Linked DNA regions of Homo sapiens: region 1 is linked to region 2. Evidence: fine-mapped expression QTL. Tissue or cell type: stomach. Region 2 holds a variant in brackets; the other region holds the start of a gene. All regions are shown on one strand. Distances are from middle to middle. Region 1 holds the start of DDX52 (DExD-box helicase 52). Region 2 overlaps SYNRG (synergin gamma).

The links. PIP is the estimated chance that this variant, and not a neighbour inherited with it, causes the effect. A credible set is the group of variants that fine-mapping cannot tell apart.
Region 1: DDX52 starts here. The variant in region 2 is the best candidate, but not a certain one, in a credible set for the expression of DDX52 in stomach (GTEx, PIP 0.83).

Annotation. Positions count from the first base shown.
Region 1 is chr17:37,640,669-37,646,052 of GRCh38, forward strand. DDX52 (DExD-box helicase 52) reads right to left here and starts at 2,778. Exons shown (of 15, transcript NM_007010.5): 1 at 2,666-2,778; 2 at 1,442-1,640. The coding sequence starts at 2,752. LOC105371756 (a long non-coding RNA gene) reads left to right here and starts at 2,270. Exons shown (of 2, transcript NR_188617.1): 1 at 2,270-2,868. RefSeq lists an enhancer at 325-825.
Region 2 is chr17:37,593,727-37,599,110 of GRCh38, forward strand. SYNRG (synergin gamma) reads right to left here. Exons shown (of 22, transcript NM_007247.6): 3 at 2,497-2,618. Among named protein-coding and RNA genes, the nearest start is that of SYNRG, 13 kb to the right of the region's middle. The variant T/C (reference allele first, on the strand shown) is at 2,245.

The DNA.
Region 1 (5,384 bases), 47 kb after region 2:
CCCTAGAGTACAGTACAAGAAAAAAAAAAAAAAAAAAGGCCAGGCGCGGTGGCTCACACCTTTAATCCCAGCACTTTGGGAGGTCGAGGCGGGCAGATCACGAGGTCAGGAGTTCAAGACCAGCATGACCAACATGGAGAAACCCCGTCTCTACTAAAAAATACAAAAATTAGCCAGGCGTGGTGGGGCACACCTGTCCCAGCTACTCAGGAGCCTGAGGCAGAAGAATCACTTGAACCTGGGAGGCAGAGGTTGCAGTGAGCGGAAAACATGCCATTGCACTCCAGCCTGGGCAACAGAGCGAGACTCTGTCTCAAAAGCAAACAAACAAACAACAAAAAAACAAAAACCTCTGTCAAAATGGGCAAAGAGTAAGAAGAAACAATTCACAAAAGGTGAAATATTAATGTCCAGTAAAGCATACAAAAATATGCTTGACCAGCCAGGTGTGGTGGCTCACGCCTGTAATCCCAGCACTTTAGGAGGCGGAGGCGGAGGCGGAGGAGGGTGGATCACAAGGTCAGGAGATCGAGACCATCCTGGCTAACACGATGAAACCTGGTCTCTACTAAAAATACAAAAAATTAGCCAGGTGTGGTGGCAGGCACCTGTAGTCCCAGGTACTTGGGAGGCTGAGGCAGGAGAATGACGTGAACCCAGGAGGCGGAGCTTGCAGTGAGCCGAGATTGCACCACTGCACCACAGACTGGGCAACAAAGCGAGACTCATCTCAAAAAAAAAAAAATGCTCGACCTCACCAGTTATCAGTAAAATATAAAATTGTTTCAGGCAGGGCGCGGTGGTTCAGGCCTGTAATCCCGGCACTTTGGGGGGCCAAAGCGGGCGGATCACGAGGTCAAGTGATCCAGGCCATCGTGGCCAACATGGTGAAACCCCATCTCTACTAAAAATACAAAAATTAGCTAGGCGTGGTGACACGCACCTGTAGTCCCAGCTACTCAGGAGGCTGAGGCAGGAGAATTGCTTGAACCCAGGAGGCAGAGGTTGCAGTGAGCCGAGATCGCGCCACTGCACTCCAGCCTGGAGACAGAGTGAGACTCTGTCTCAAAAAAAAAAAGTTTCATTCATTAGCTTGGCAAAAAAATTAACACCAATAATATTCAGCACTGACAAGGACTTGGGAAGTCACTTTGTAGTATTTTTCAGAGAAAGGGTACATACCCTTTCACCATATGATGCTACTTTTCGGATGGTATTCTGCAGAAATAACAGTACCTGTACAAAAGGATTTATGTATAAATATCTTTACTTAAAATTACCTTTGCTGTAACAATATTTCTAATGACAAATACCTGGAAACAACCTGAGTGCCATCAGCTGACAAATGACCTTATTGTCTGACTTGTAGCCATAAGCCTGTATTATTTTTATAACTGAAAAAAATTAAAGAGAAAAAACATGACAGAAATCAAACACTAACCTGAAGTCATCGTCTTCCTTTTTTTCTTGCTCTGCTCCCTCTTCCTTTCAGTTAGGCTCTCTTCTTTTTTCTCTCCATTTTGGGGCTTCTGATGTGTTTGTGATGCTCCACACACACCTGGGACAGACTTCTTGTTTCCAAAAAAGTCCAGTCCCTGAAGCACCTCCGAAGAATCAAAGTCATATTTCCTTTTTCCTATCTAAAACCCAAAAAATGTAAAATGAAACCTACTGACAGAATACCATTGCTTTCATTCAAGCAAGACTGTTCAATGACTCCTCATCTTTTCTACCCTTTCACCAAGTATCTGTCGAGCTAACAGGTGTCTGGACAAATGGAATCTGAAGAGACCTTCTCTGACCTCATAATAGTAACAAATTAATATTAGCAATGAACACATATATGCTTACTAAATGTCAAGCAGATTTCTAAGCATGTTTATACATATTAAATTGCTTCACATTTACAACTCTATAAGGTAAATAGCAGTATTACGAATGAGAAAACCAAGGCATTCGGAAATTAAGTAACTTGAGGTAGGTCTAAAAATGAGTAACTGGCAGACTTAGCATTTAGACCCAGATAATCTGGCTCCAGAGTTCATACTCACCAGTTAGAGAAAGAAGAAACACATGTCACACGCATATACACATCCAAACAACAAAGTAGACATTCAAGATTTTCCAGAATTGGGCCCCAATTGACCTCCCCCGATGTATCACTCACTACTTCTCTAGGTAAGAGCCCCCATTTCTTAATCGCTCTTCTCATTGGTTACTTAAGCCATGGGGTTGAAGCAATAAAAAGAATCACGCCCAGTACAACTATACGCATGCCAAGCCAAACTTGGGGAGACTATAGTAAGAGAATCTGTTTTCTCCATCTTTGGTTGTTTCTGTTTTCGAAATTCCTTTCCTCTAGGTTCGGAGAAAAAGTTCCTTTTGAAAGGAGGATTCCAACTTTGCTTTGAATAAGAGGGAGGAAAGAGGGTTTCCGTGCCAGGCCCAACTAGGTCTACAACAGGATAGTTAAAGAGCTTATTCAAAAGGCTTGAACCGAGCAGCCGTGCAGGCAAGCCGAACACAAAAGGAAGCAAAATACCCCAAGGGTGGCGAGAGCCAGGCCACGGGTGTCCAAGTGCGCCGGCCTCCCCCAGCAGCGGGTTCATTCCCGGGCTCCTGCTCCTTCTCAGTTACTCGGCCCTCGGTCCCTTGGGCACAGTACCTGGAATCGAGCTGCGTCTGCCGAGAAGCGTCTCGTGTCGAATTTGGCCCCCGCGCCGAGCCGGCGAAAGAGATCGTGGACGTCCATCTTTACCCAGAAAGCGCCACAGTTCTACGGCGCCTGCGCAGACTACTTCCCAGGCCCCGGGCAGCGTCGGAAGAGGGCGTGAGCATAATTGGCTCCTGTAGGCGGAGCCTGGCTGGGTGAGAAACGAGGCTATTTTATTATCGTGTACTCCGTCATTATTTATCTTTTTTTTTTTTTTTTGAAACAAGGTCTCTCTCTGTCGCCCAGGCTGGAGCGCAGTGGCGCAATCGCAGCCTCGAACTCCTGGGCTCAAGTGATCCTCCCATCTCGGTCTCCCAAACTGCTGGGACTACAGGCGTGTGTAAATTCTTTTAAAAAATATTTATCAGTATCCTCTTATGTTGGGCACTGTTCTAGACTTTGAGGGATACTATAGTAAACAACATCTTAAGATTCCTCTTCTTACGAAGCTTACATTTTAGTAGGGACAACAGATATTGTTAACAAATAAATAAGCAAAATCTCTGTAAAGTAATAAGTGCTATAAAACAAAAAGGTGTAATTGATAGAGAAAATGATGAGGGAGCTGACTTAGTGAAATTCACTCTGTTGAAGTGAAAACTTGAGCTAAGAGGAAGCAACCTGTCCAAGATCTGGGAACAGCATTCCAGATAGGGGAAACACGTGGCTGAAGGGAAAAAAATTGGAACCTTGAGGGAATAGAAAGAATGCCGGTGCGACTAGAGCCAAGTTGCAGTCTGATAGAGTAGTACAGATAAGGTTGGAGGGACAAACAGAAGCCAGATCTCACAGAATCTTGTAACAAGGTCATAGTAAGGAATTTGGACTTCCACCTTGGGAAACTATTTGAAAATTTTTATGGAGAGAAGAACATGATTTAGTTTATCACATTTAATTTTTTATATTTATTACATCTGTACGAAATTATTTACTGCTTATTGCCTCTCCCTCTTCTGGAATGTAAGTCCCTGAGCACAGGGATATACTTTGCTTCGTTATGTATCCCCAGTTTCTGTGCACTTTGGTGAATGAATGCGTGGATGTTTCATAAAGGATTACACTGGCTATTTGGAGAATGGACCATAGAAAAGCTAAGAGTGGAAACAGGTTAGTCAAAGTAGAATGATGATCATGGCTTGTCTAGGTTGGTATCTGTGCTGAGAGAGATAAATGGATTAGATCTGGCATGTATTTTGGAGGTAGAGCTAAACGTACCTGACGGATTTTATGCAGAGGTGAGAGAAAGGGAGGAATCAAAGATCACTCCTAGTTTTTTGGCTGAGTAGATGGCATGCCATTTACTGAGCTAAGAAAGCCTGAGAGAAGAAGGGCTTTCTGGTACAAGTGAGATACGGAGGATGGAATCAATTGTTATGTTTTGGACGTGTTAAGATGCCTACCTAGTTGACTTTAAGTGGAGACATCCAAGTAGGTAGTTGGTTCTGAATCTGAAGCTCAGGAACAAAAATTAGGGCTAGAGAAATTAATTTGGAAGTCATCAACATATAAATGATACAAAGGAGTTGTACCATATAAGCATTTAACTTATAAAAATTCAGTTATATGTATTTGACCAAAGAGAATGAAACATACTTGAAATTGTATGGGTGAGTCCTTTACAATCAAGGAAAGCAGGTGTGAGGTGAGCATGTGATGGGGGAGGTGAATCTGCGGTTTCTCAGATGAATTCAGCCCCTTACTCCCTATTACAGTGGGTCGGGGGGTGGTCTTCCTGTCCCAAGTGTGTCTACTCTTTAAAAATAGGAACTTCCCAAGTACTTCATCTGTTGTTCAATAAAAATAATTTATCTTCAGCCAGGCGCAGTGGCTTATACCTGTAATCCTAGCACTTTGGGAGGCCAAGGTGGGCAGATTACTTCAGCTCAGAAGTTTGAAACCAGCCGGGGCAACATGGCGGAACTCCATCTCTACAAAAAATTAAAACATTAGCTGGGTGTAGTGGCACACACCTATAGTCCCAGCCACTTGGGAGGCTGAGGCAGGAAGATTGCTTGAGCTTGGGAGGTTGAAGCTGCAGTGACTTGTAACGGCACCACTGCACTCCAACCTGGGTGACAGAGTGAGACCTTGTCTCAAAAATAAATAAAATTAATCTATTTCAACATAAGAGGAAAAACTCAATATTAGTGTGTTGATCTTCAGTTTGGCACATAAATATGGCCATAGCCATATATAAAATTAATATGTATGAAATGGCAACTACCATACTTTGTGGATGACTTAGGGAATTTAAAAAAAAATTCAACTTTATGAGATTTTTTTTTTCTTTATGAGCTGATTTAGAACCTAATCCCTATGTAAGTGGTAACAAACCCATCTCCAAAAGCATGAGCATGAATGTGATCACTTAGAGAAAATGTGTGAATGGAGAAGAGAAGGGGACCCAGGACTGACCCTATGGTACTCTAATGCTTGGAGATGAGGTGGAGGAGGAGACACCTGTAAAACAAGAGTCTGAGAAGAAGCAAGTGAAGTAGAAAGCAAGCAGTGAGGTAGGAAGACCAGGAATTTGGTGTCACCAAAGCCAGACAGAAGTTTTAAGAAGGTAGTGATCAGCTATTTCAAAGGCTGTTGAGAGGCTGAAGACAGAAAAGATCACTGCATTTGGCAACGTGGAGGTCACTAGAGCCCCTGATAATGTCAGTTTCAG
Region 2 (5,384 bases):
ATACAAAATTAGCCGGGCGTGGTGGCACATGCCTGTAATACCAGCTACTTGGGAGGCTGAGGCAGGAGAATCGCTTGAACCTGGGAGGCGGAGGTTGCAGTGAGCCGAGATCGTGCCATTGCACTCCAGCCTGGGCAACAAAACTCCCTCTCAAAAAAAAAAAAAAAAAATGGTGAGCAGCTTCCAAACAGTATAATGCCTGTCAGCAAGATTAAAGGTTAAAGAAAAAGACTTTGGCTGCTTTGTCTTAGAATCATTAATACACAAGCTTCTGATATTCAGGGACATTATTAAGGTACTAACAACTCTCATAGTTTACTTTTTTCTTATTGTTCTGCATATTAGAGACTCTTACTGTTTTTGGTTGTTTCAAACTCTAAAAACATTTTTCAGATAATTGTGTAAGTCATAAAATAATGTTTATGAATATTATTTTAATTATATTAATTACAATATTAATTATTTTAATTATATTAATTACAATATTAATTATTTTAATTATATTAATTACAATATTAATTATTTTAATTATATTAATTACAATAATATTAATTTTAATTATATTAATTACAATATTAATTATTTTAATTAATATTTAATATTAAAATAAAAATTAATGATTTAAAATTTGTATCAATTGTTATTAAGATTCAGTATTAAGCTTAGGAAGTCTTAATTTAAAATACATTGTATTCTATGGTAGATTGTTTTTAGTTATTTGCTGCCTTTCTTCTTCTTTTTTTTTTTTTTTTTTGAGATGGAATCTCACTCTGTCGCCCAGGCGGGAGTGCAGTGGCGCAATCTCAGCTCACTGCAACCTCTGCCTCCTGGGTTCAAGCGATTCTCCTGCTCAGCCTCCTGAGTAGCTGGGATTACAGGCATGCACCACCACGCCCGGCTAATTTTTGTATTTTTAGTAGAGACGAGGTTTCACCATGTTGGTCAGGCTGGTCTCGATCTCCTGAACTCATGATCTGCCCACCTCAGCCTCCCAAAGTGCTGGGATTACAGGTGTGAGCCACTGCTCCCAGCCATTTGCTACCTTTATTCTAAGAGAACTACACATCCCTATGTGGTTTACATTCGTCCTGGTATATTCCTCCCCTATTGATGTTAAGGCCACATTACTTTGGTGAGCAGAAGTGACTAATAAATGCTACCTCCAAGTGTTAGCTTTAAAAGACATCACAGGGTTTGGCCATCTCTTTTTCCTATGCCAAGAGCCTAGGATGTCCTGGCTGAGGGTCTTAGGATAAAGAAAACATGGAGCAGAGTCAGCACTAACCCATAAGGATATGTATCACGAGTGAGGAATAAACTTTTCTAAGTCACTGAGATCTGGGGACTGTTTCTGCAGCACACCCTAGTGAAAGCTAGCTTAACATGAATTAAAAACCTACACAATTTCAATGTATTCCCTTCCTTCTAGAGACAGATAAAAAATGACACTGGAAGTTTTCCTGACCCTTTAAACACAAAACAGAAGCTTTATTTGCATAATCGACTTCAAAACAACAATGGTTTCAACTTAAAATTCTGGTCATGAAGTCCTAATATCACTTATTTATAAGTTATATACATGTGTTACTGTATAAAAGTATATACTGTATAACAAAACACACAGAAATAGAAAATGTTAAAGTATTAGGTAAATAAGTAAACTAACGCAGAAACAAAAAACCAAATACTGCATGTTCTCACAAGTGGGAGCTAAACACTGGGTGCACATGGACATAAAGACAGGCTCGACAGACATTGGAGACTACAAGACGGGAGAAAGTGGGGGAAGGGTTGAAAAACTACCTGTTGGTACTATGCTCACTACCTGGGTGATGGGTTCCATCATACCCCAACCCTCAGCATCACACAACATATTAGTGTAACAAACCTACAAACGTGCCCCCTGAATCTAAAATATAAGTTGAAAAAAGCAAAAATAAGTAAAGTATTAGGTAAAAAAGAAATACAGTATATGGCCTTCAAGATAGCTGTTAATAGTACAAAAGCAAAAACCTTTTTTTCCTCTGGCCTTTTTTTTTTTTTTTGAGACGGGAGTCTCACTTTGTTGCCCAGGCTGGAGTACAGTGGCATGATCTTGGCTCACTGCAACCTCCACCTCTCGGGTTTAAGGGATTGTCCTGCCTCAGCCTCCCGAGTAGCTGGGACTACAGGCACATGCCACCACGCCCAGGTAATTTTTGTATTTTTAGTAGAAACAGGGATTCACCATGTTGGCCAGGCTGG[T/C]CTCGAACTCCTGACCTCAAGTGATCTGCCCGCCTTGGCCTCCCAAAGTGCTGGGATTACAGGCATGAGCCACTGCACCTAGCCTTTTCCCTCACTCTTGGAGGGTGAACACATCTTCATTTTAGTTTGAAGGAAGCCATTTATTTATGCTTATTTCTAATTGTAACATTAAGCTCTTAGCCTGTAGCTCTTGATATATAAACGTAACAACAAACAATAACTTTGTAAGAAACCAACTAAAGAAGCAAGTACCTGCATAGCAATAGGTCCTTGGGACATCTGAGAGCTGTAATTCATTCCCATAATGCCTTGCATATTAGGCTGCATGACAGAGACCATAGGAAATCCTTGTTGCTGCATCGGCATCAGGCCTGCTGAAAATATAAAGACATTATTAAAGTCAATGTGTTTTAAAGTTTATTTTCTTAAAACCATAAGTACCTAAAGGACTTGTTACTTGGCAGGAAGCAGAGTGTAATGGAAAAAGCACAGGGTCCTGAGTGAGACAGATGTGAATATGAATTCCAACTCCATCATTTACTTAGCTGTGTGATCTTGAACAAGTTACAAAACTTCATCTGTAAAATGAAGATAATATCTCTTCTATGGAATTTGTATGCATATTAAAAAACAGTATGGCCTAATTGGGGTACTCAGCCTTCAAGATGGCCTCCAATGACCTCTGTCTCCTGGTATTCATACCCGTGTGTTGTTCCATTCCATACTGAATGGGGCTGATCAGTATAACCAACAGGATACTGTGGAAATGACAGCATGTAACTTCGAAGGCTAGTTATTTTTTTTTTCTTTTGAGACAGAGTCTCACTCTGTCACCCAGGCTGGAGTGCAGTGGCATGATCTCAGCTCACTGCAACTTCCACCTCCTGGGTTCAAGCCTCCCAAGTAGCTGGGACTACAGGTGCCTGCCACCACGCCCAGCTAATTTTTGTATTTTTTAGTAGAGATGGGGTTTCGCCATCTTGGCCAGGGTGGTCTTGAACTCCTGACCTCAACACCCGCCTCAGCCTCCCAAAGTGCTGGGATTACAGGTGTGAGCCACTGTGCCTGGCCTGAAGGCTAGTTCTTAAAAGACACTGTAGTTTCCTCCTGGTTCTTTTGGATCACTTGCTCTGGAGCAAGCCACTGCCACGTCATGAAATACTCAATAAGACCTATGGAGAATCCATGTGGTAAGGTACTGAGGTCTTCTGCCAAAAGGCAGCATGAATTTGCCATCTATCTCAGCGAGCCACCTCGGCAGCATCTCCATGAAACTTTCAGATGACTGCAAGCCTGGCTGACATCTTCACTGCAATCTCATAAGAGGTCTTGAGCCTGAACCACCCAGCAGAGCTACTCCTAGATTCCTGACCGAGAGACACACTATGAAATAATAAAATGTTTACTTTTTAAAGTTTGGGATAATTTGTTACACAACAGCAGATAACTAACAAAATAACAGTTAGGAGCATGAACTCTGGGAGCCAACTAGAAATGACACATACTATTTTGGAACCTTGGGCAATCTGCTTCTTTCTATGCCTTGGTTTATCATTTGTAAAACTGTTTAATACTTACTATGCTCAAAGAAATGTTATTCTTCTTCCTTTTTCTTACATGAATAGGTAATATAACAGTTACCACAAAATAGCCATCAGCATGTGCAATGGCAGAAAACTATCACGAATGTATGATTTAGGCTAGTGTTTCCCAAACTTTTCCAAGAGCAGAGGTGAATGAATATACATCCCTTTGGGATTTTAATAAATACTAAATGCTTATTATATGCTAGGCATAGTTCTATGTGCTTGGTACACAAGAAGTGAATAAAACAAAATCCCTACATAGTCTGAGCACAAATTTCATTCTAATTTTGCATTCAAACTACATCTATGTTGGTTCTACCATAAGGAACTTTATATCAAACTGTCAGTTTGAAAAATTAAAGATCTAGGAAATTATACCATGTTTATCTTATGGTTTTTGTGTACCTCCCAGGTTATTTATAACCTAGCCTAATTTCAGAAGCATGGACATCCACATTTGTGGCTAACAGTTATTAGAGGTAGGCCATTCACTTATTCAAGTATTTGAAGCCTACTCCGTATTAGGCACTGTTCTAGGGACATAGCCATGAACAAAACCAGGTCTTCACTCTCATGGAACTTACACTGTAATTAGGAGAGATAGATAACAAAAAAATAAGTACATGTCAGGTGGTGATAAGAGCTAGGGCAAAAAATAAAGCAGGGCAAGGGGGAATGGAGTGGTTGCTATTTTACATAGGGCAATCAGAAAAAGTTTTACCAACAGGGTAGTATTTCAACAAGAACCTCAAGTAAATAAAGAACCAAGCCATGCAGATGTTTGGGAAAAATATTCCAGACCAAAGAACACCAAGTACAAAGATCACGAGGTGTCAGGGAGAATTAGAATACACAGATTGAAAATAGCCACAGTAAGATGTTTTCCGTCTTATTTCTTTGGACTTAAAGTTTTATTGATTTTAACTGATTTTATTTTATTTCTGAATGGGTAACTCAGATATCTGGCATAATATTTCAAGGCACAAAAGTGTACACAGTAAAAAATAGGTCTCTTTCTCTCCTCTGTCTCCGGTTCAAGTACTCATGATCTTGTGGCCATGACCTTGCTGTCGGTTTCTTACATATGTTTTCAGAAATGATCCATGCATAATTTAAAGCCTTCAAATGATCAAAAAGTCCATTCTAACAACTGTTAAAAAAAAATCTCCAAACCAATTCCAAATTCCCTAAGAAAAAATATCAGGCAACACTTTGGGGTCTCTTCTTGTCCAGTTCCTTTGCTCCATATGCATATTTTTACTTGAAAGTGTATAGAAATGCAAAATAACAAACATGATAATGGACACATAACTCTGTAATACCTTCCTAAAGAACAAAAGATCTCAAACCATTTGATCTCAATCTGGGACACATCTAATTACAGATAGCTTAAATAATGCATAAATGTGAACACGATGAAAAGAATACAACTGAGCCTTGGAAAAACTTACCTGAAACCCAACCACCATCACTGATTATAAATGAAGACAAAGTCAGGATGAGCCACTGACCACCTGCTACTGAGCTGCTCTTTATCTTTTATCTCTACTGCTG